Homo sapiens: one gene and its partner. The protein of the gene in region 1 purifies or fractionates together with the protein of each later gene. This does not show direct contact. Each region holds a gene or a part of one and is shown on either strand. Other genes may lie near its edges.

What was found.
Region 2: the proteins of COPS7A (region 1) and DCAF1 purify together in Homo sapiens (affinity purification with mass spectrometry; 4 studies listed by BioGRID and IntAct, with this or other methods). This does not show direct contact.

Annotation. Positions count from the first base shown.
Region 1 is NC_000012.12:6,729,706-6,732,365, reverse strand, and holds the end of COPS7A (COP9 signalosome complex subunit 7a), read right to left. Parts: intron 1,965-2,660; coding exon 1,859-1,964; intron 1,698-1,858; coding exon 1,546-1,697; intron 1,367-1,545; coding exon 1,327-1,366; 3' UTR 501-1,326; downstream 1-500.
Region 2 is NC_000003.12:51,423,516-51,427,015, reverse strand, and holds part of DCAF1 (DDB1- and CUL4-associated factor 1), read left to right. Parts: intron 1-1,007; exon of another isoform or gene 1,008-1,106; intron 1,107-3,500. UniProt on the Homo sapiens protein: Acts both as a substrate recognition component of E3 ubiquitin-protein ligase complexes and as an atypical serine/threonine-protein kinase, playing key roles in various processes such as cell cycle, telomerase regulation and histone modification.

The DNA.
Region 1 (2,660 bases):
CGTGAGCCACCGCGCCCGGCCTTTTTTTTTTTTTTGAGATGGAGTCTCACTCTGTCACTCAGGCTGGAGTGCATGATCTCGGCTCACTGCAACCTCCACCTTCCAGGTTCGAGCGATTCTCCTGCCTCAGCCTCCTTAGGGGATTATGGGCATGAGCCACCACACCCAGCTAATTTTTTTGCATTTTTAGTAGAGATGGGTTTCACCATGTTGGCCAGGTTGGTCTCACACTCCTGACCTCAAGTGATACGCCCGCCCTGGCCTCCCAACATGCTGGGATTACGGTCGTGAGCCACTGCACCCAGCCATATCCATTACTTCTGAATGGATGCTGAGCAACCTGTCCAAAGCCATACAGCTTGGGATCTAGGCCTCAGCCAGGGACTCAGCAAATAGTATCTGGGTCTCTTCATTTTCCAGCACTGTGCTTGAGTGAATTGGGAATGAGTCTTCTTCCCATCCACAAATATCAAACACAGAAGATACCCAGTTCAGGGTAGTTTGTAGATAGATTTCTCATAGATTTATTTCTGCGTCATATTATATATAGATATATGCATATATACCTTTTTTTTTTTAATACAATCTATATACCCTTCCCTTCCCCACCAAACTCACAAAAGGAGATTAAACCCTTCCAGGATTGCCATCAAGCTTCCCGAGATGGCCAGGGCCAAGAAAGAATCATCTCTCAACATGTTAAGAAACGGCTGCCATTCTTAGGCTCTGGGGTTGAAGCAGCAGCATTCCCAGGACCCAAGGGCCAGAGAGAGGAAAAGAAATGACTGTAGTGTGACAGGATTCTAGGATGAACATGTCCAGTGACTCCTGGCATGGCAGACTGGCTCCCAGAATTCTCAGGGTGTGAGTAAAGGTGGGGGCCCTATGGCTCTTCAGAGGCTGCTCAATAGGTCAGGGGTAGGGTATAGGAACTGGGGATCAGGCATGCAGGGATGGGGTGGCAGAAAAAACGCCTGTGGGTTATGCTCCAGACAGAGCGACCCCCATCAGGGCTACCCACCTACTCAATGACATGTAATGAACAGGGACAGATGCTGAGCTCTTAAGGAAACAAGGGAGAGAGCATGGCAGCGGGGAGCAATGGAACACATGAAGTCACAAAAAACAGAAAGTACCAACAAAAACATGACCTACATTTGCCTCCTCCCTAGAGAAGGTGTGATCTATGTTTGGGGTTAGGGGAGGTGAAGGGTCATGAACCTAGGATTATCAGCTGGCCAGGGGCACAGAAGGCTCTCTGAGGACTCCTAAGAGGCAGGCAGGCAGCTGGGACCCCACATCCCCAGGGAGGAAACGACAGTCCTTTCAATTCGACTTGGACCAAATCTTGGCGCTCCCTCGGAGCCTGGCAAGGAGAAGAGAGAGAAAGAGAGAGAGAGAGAGAATGCAGGGAATCCCCTAACCCCTGGAGGCTCCCCCACTCCCTACTCCCATGCAAATAACTGAAGGAAATGAGGACAGTGAGGTCCCTGGGGTAAAAGCAGGGCACCCTGCAAGTGAGCAGTTCCTGCTACCCTGGCTCACCCCTTGCCCTTTGAGGCTTTCTTGCTGGGCTGGCGCTGGTTGGTGCCAGGAGCTGGTTCCCTCAGCTCAGTCAGGTGTTGCTCAGGGTCCTGAGATGTGGCTGCGGCTGCTGCTGCCGTCGTAACTTTAATGGTTTTTTTAAGGTTGGCAACCTACCAGGATGAAAGGAATGGGGATAGCAAGGAAGGTTCCAGAACCTTCCAGCCCCTGCTCATCTGGTTGTCTGCTACAGCCACTGTCCAAATTCTCTCTGCAAAGGACAAGTCGCCCAGGCTGGAGGAGTTTGGGTCTGCCTGCTCCCCTGACTGCTCACCTCACTCTCAATCTGCTGCTTCAGGCCCAGCTGCTGCTCCTTGTGTTGGTTGGCACGGCTCACCTGCTCCTCAATGCCTGACAGCACGACCTCACAGCCCACACACCTGCAGGAGTCAGGGGAGAGAAGTGTCAGCAGACAAGGGCTGCGATCACAGACTCACAGAAAACTGACTCAAAAAGAACCCTAGAGGCAGGGCGCAGTAGCTCACCCCCATAATCCCTGCATTTTGGGAGGCCAAGATGGGCGAATTGCTTAAGCTCAGGAGTTCAAGACCAGCCTGAGCGATATGGCAAAAATCCGTCTCTACAAAAAATACAAAAACTAGCTGGATGTGGTGACACGAGCCTGTAGTCCCGTGCTACTCAAGAGACTGAGGTGGAGGGTGGCTTGAGCCCTGGAAGTTGGAGGCTGCAGTGAGTCAAGATGGTGCCACTGCACTCCAAACTGAGCAACAGAGCCAGAACACAGCTTCTGGCATTTTGAGTCTGAGTTGGGAACCCTCACCAGGGCACCTAGAAACCACCTGTGATAACACTCCTAGCAGTGGGATGGACACTCGGTGTGGTCAGAGAGGGATAAGGAAGCGCCTGGAGTGATGAGCAAGATGGGAGTAGGAACTGAAAACAAAATAGGGTAGGAGATGCCAAAGAGAAAAAGAGGTGACTTAATGAATACAGAAACCCTGAAGTTAGATGGGGACACAAAGAAAATAAAAAAGAGGAAAAGGGTCATGGCCTGTGGATAATGGTAGTTACAGATCAATCGACAGAGTCTAGCCTAAGACAGGCGACCGACCTTG
Region 2 (3,500 bases), on another chromosome or scaffold:
ACCATATATAATGTTTATATTACGTTCATATAAAATTGTCCTTTTACTCTTGGAATTCGACATACTGTTAGGATTTTCACAAATTAGTTTAAGGCAGAGCAGGACAAGGCCCAGAAAAGGGTGGCTGATGTAATCAGGAAACTGGGTAGGTTCTATTTGAAGATGATATAAAAAGAAATAAAACTGTTTTGAAAAAGATGGGGTCTTAAGAGAAGATAGTAAAAAAGTTTATAAACAGAGTGCTTGACCTTCTTTTCCTATTCACTCACTGCCATAAAGATAAGAGAGGGGCTTATTTAGGGGAATATAGTAAGTTTGTTAAATCCCAGCATTTAAATATTGTAAGGTACTCTTGGAGCAGGTGTTATTAAACTTTTTGGTTTCAAGATACCTTTACCATATTAATAATTACTGAGAACTCTAAAAGGCTTTTGTTTTTGTGTTATATCTATCAGTATTAGAAATTAAAACAGAAAATGTAAAAATATTTATGCATTAAAAATGTGGGCCAGGCACAGTGGCTCATGCTTGTAATTTCAGCACTTTGGAAGGACGAGGTGGGCAGATCACTTGAGGTCCGAAGTTTGAGACCAGCCTGGGCAATGTGGTGAAACCCCATCTCTACTAAAAATAGAAAAATTAGCCGGGGGTGGTGTTACGCACCTGTAGTCCCAGCTACCTGGGAGGCTGAGGCAGGAGAATCAATTGAACCCAGGAGGCAGAGGTTGCAGGGAGCTGAGATCACGCCACTGTACTCCAGCCTAGGCGACAGAGCAAGTCTTCATCTCAAAAAAAAAAAAGTGAACCCATTGCATGTTTGCGTTATTCATGAAAAATTTCCAAAATAAAACCAGATAATTTTAGCAAGTTTGAAAAAATGTCTGGCCTAATATCTCATATCTGCTTCTGTATTCAGTTTTTGTGACATCACATCATCTCTGGAAGACTCTCTTACTATGCAATGAGAGAATGAGAGTGCAAAAGGAAAGTGACATCTTATTATTACGAAAATAGCTTTGACTTCACAGGACCTTCTGAAAGGGTCTCAGACTTCTAGAGGTCTCCAGACTATACTTTGAGAAGTGCTGTTTTAGAATATTGGAAAAGTAGGTTATTATATTTATTTGGAGAATTGTTTAAAAAGTGATGATAGGCCAGGCGTGGTGGTTCATACCTGTAATCCCAGCACTTAGGGAGGCTGAGACGGGCAGATTGCTTGAGATCAGGAGTTCGAGACCAGCCTGGGCAATATGGTGAAACCCCATCTCTACCAAAAATAAAAAAAATTAGCCTGGTGTGTTGCCGCATGTCTGTAGTCCCAGCTACTAGGGACGCTGAGGTGGGAGGATTGCTTGAGCCCAGGAGGTAGAGAATGCAGTGAGCCAAGATGGTGCCACTGCACTTTAGCCGGGGCAACAGAGCAAGACTCTGTCTCCAAAAAAAAAAAAAAAAAAAAGATGACAGCTTACAAGATAACTAGAAAGGGTATAAATACATTTTTTAAACTGGTACATCTGTGTTTATTTATTTTTTTGTTGGTTTTGGAGACAGAGTCTTGCTCTGTTGCCCAGGCTGGAGTGCAGTGGCAGGATCTTGGCTCACTCCAACCTCCACCTCCCAGGTTCAAGTGATTCTTGTGCCTCAGTCTCTGAAGTAGCTGGGATTACAGACACGCACCACCAAGCCCAGCTACTTTTTGCATTTTTTAGTAGAGACGGGGTTTTGCCATGTTGGCCAGGCTGGTCTCGAACTCCTGGCCTTGAGTGATCTGCCTGCCTCAGCCTCTCAATGTGCTGGGATTATAGGCATGAAACACGGTCCGGCCTGTATTTGGATTATTGAAAAAATATGTCCTTGATTTTAAAAATTTATTTTTAGAAATAAAATTAATAAATGTTTCTGCTTTAGAATATGCAGAATCTTTTAAAGAGAAAAGAAAATTACTCTTAGCATTCACTACGTAATATTTGCAAATACACATAATTAATATTATACTTTTAATCAAATTCATCTTTTTTATGAATATTTTCAAAACATAGAAAGGCACAGAGAATAGTTTAACAACTGCTCCATCATTAACCAGGATTGGCATGTTGTTGTATTTGCTTTTGGCTCAGTTCTTTTTCTGCCTCCCCAGAGTCACCCATCTTCTGAATTTGAACCATATTCTCCCCACTCATGTTTTTATACTATATATATCTGTGTGTTCATAAATAATAACGTCATACTGCTTTGCATGTTTTTAAATTATAAATATTTTCCTAAGTTCATCTTTCACAGCTTGCTTTTTTTACCCTTATATTCTTGAGATTTATATATGTTGATATTTATTTAAAATGCTGTATTTCTATACTGCAGTTTATTCTGCCATTGATGGCTAATTTAGTGTTTTTGTTTGGTTTTTTTGGCTATTAAATAAATGGTATCATGAACCTCCTTTTGGAGGCTCTCTTGAGGATATGATGTAGAGCATCTGGTTTGTAGGGTGTCTGTGTTCTTACCTTTATTGGATATTGCCAAATTGCTTCTAAAAATGTTCATACCATTGTCATCCCCCACCAGCAATATATAGGAGCTTTCATTTCTCTACTTTTTTTTTTCTTTTTTTTTTTTGAGGCAGAGTCTTGCTCTGTCACCCAGGCTGGAGTGCAGTAGTGGTGCAATCTCGGCTTATGGCAACCTCCGCCTCCTGGGTTCAAGCGATTCTCCTGCTTCAGCCTCCTGAGTAACTGGGACTACAGGCGCCCACTACCATGCCCAGCTAATTTTTGTATTTTTAGTAGAGACAGGGTTTCACCATATTGGCCAGGCTGGTCTTGAACTCCTGACCTCGTGATCCACCTGCCCTGGTCTCCCACCACACCCAGCCGGTTTTTTCTTTTTTAACTACAAAAGACATCCAACATTTCTCTACTTTCTTGCCAGTACTTGGTATTGTCAGATTTTTAATTTTATATCTTACATTTTTTATTTTTATATCATTAATGTTGTATTTTGAACCCTTTCCCTCATTCTTTAGGGTTCTTTGAAAATGATTGTCAATGGCTGTAGTTTATGAGTGTACTATACTCTAACACATATGGTGCTCTTGTCTATGTGGGTTTTCTCATTCTTTTGCTATTTTAATGTGGCTAATGAACATCTTAATACATAAATTCTTCTGATTATTTCTTTCTTTCTTTTTTTTTTTTTTTTTGAAACGGAGTCTCACTGTGTTGACCAAGCTCGAGTGCAGTGGTGTGATCTTGGCTCACTGTAGCCTCTGCCTCCCAGATTCAAGCAGTTCTTCCTGCCTCAGCCTCCTGAGTAGCTGGGATTACAGATGCCCACCACCATGCCTGGCTGGTTTTTGTATTTTTTAATAGAGATGGGGTTTCAACATGTTGGCCAGGCTGGTCTTGAATTCCTGACCTCAGGTCATCCGCCTGCCTCAGCCTCCCAAATTGTTGTGATTACCGGCGTGAGCCACTGCACCCGGCCTGAGTCTTTTTTCTTTTCTT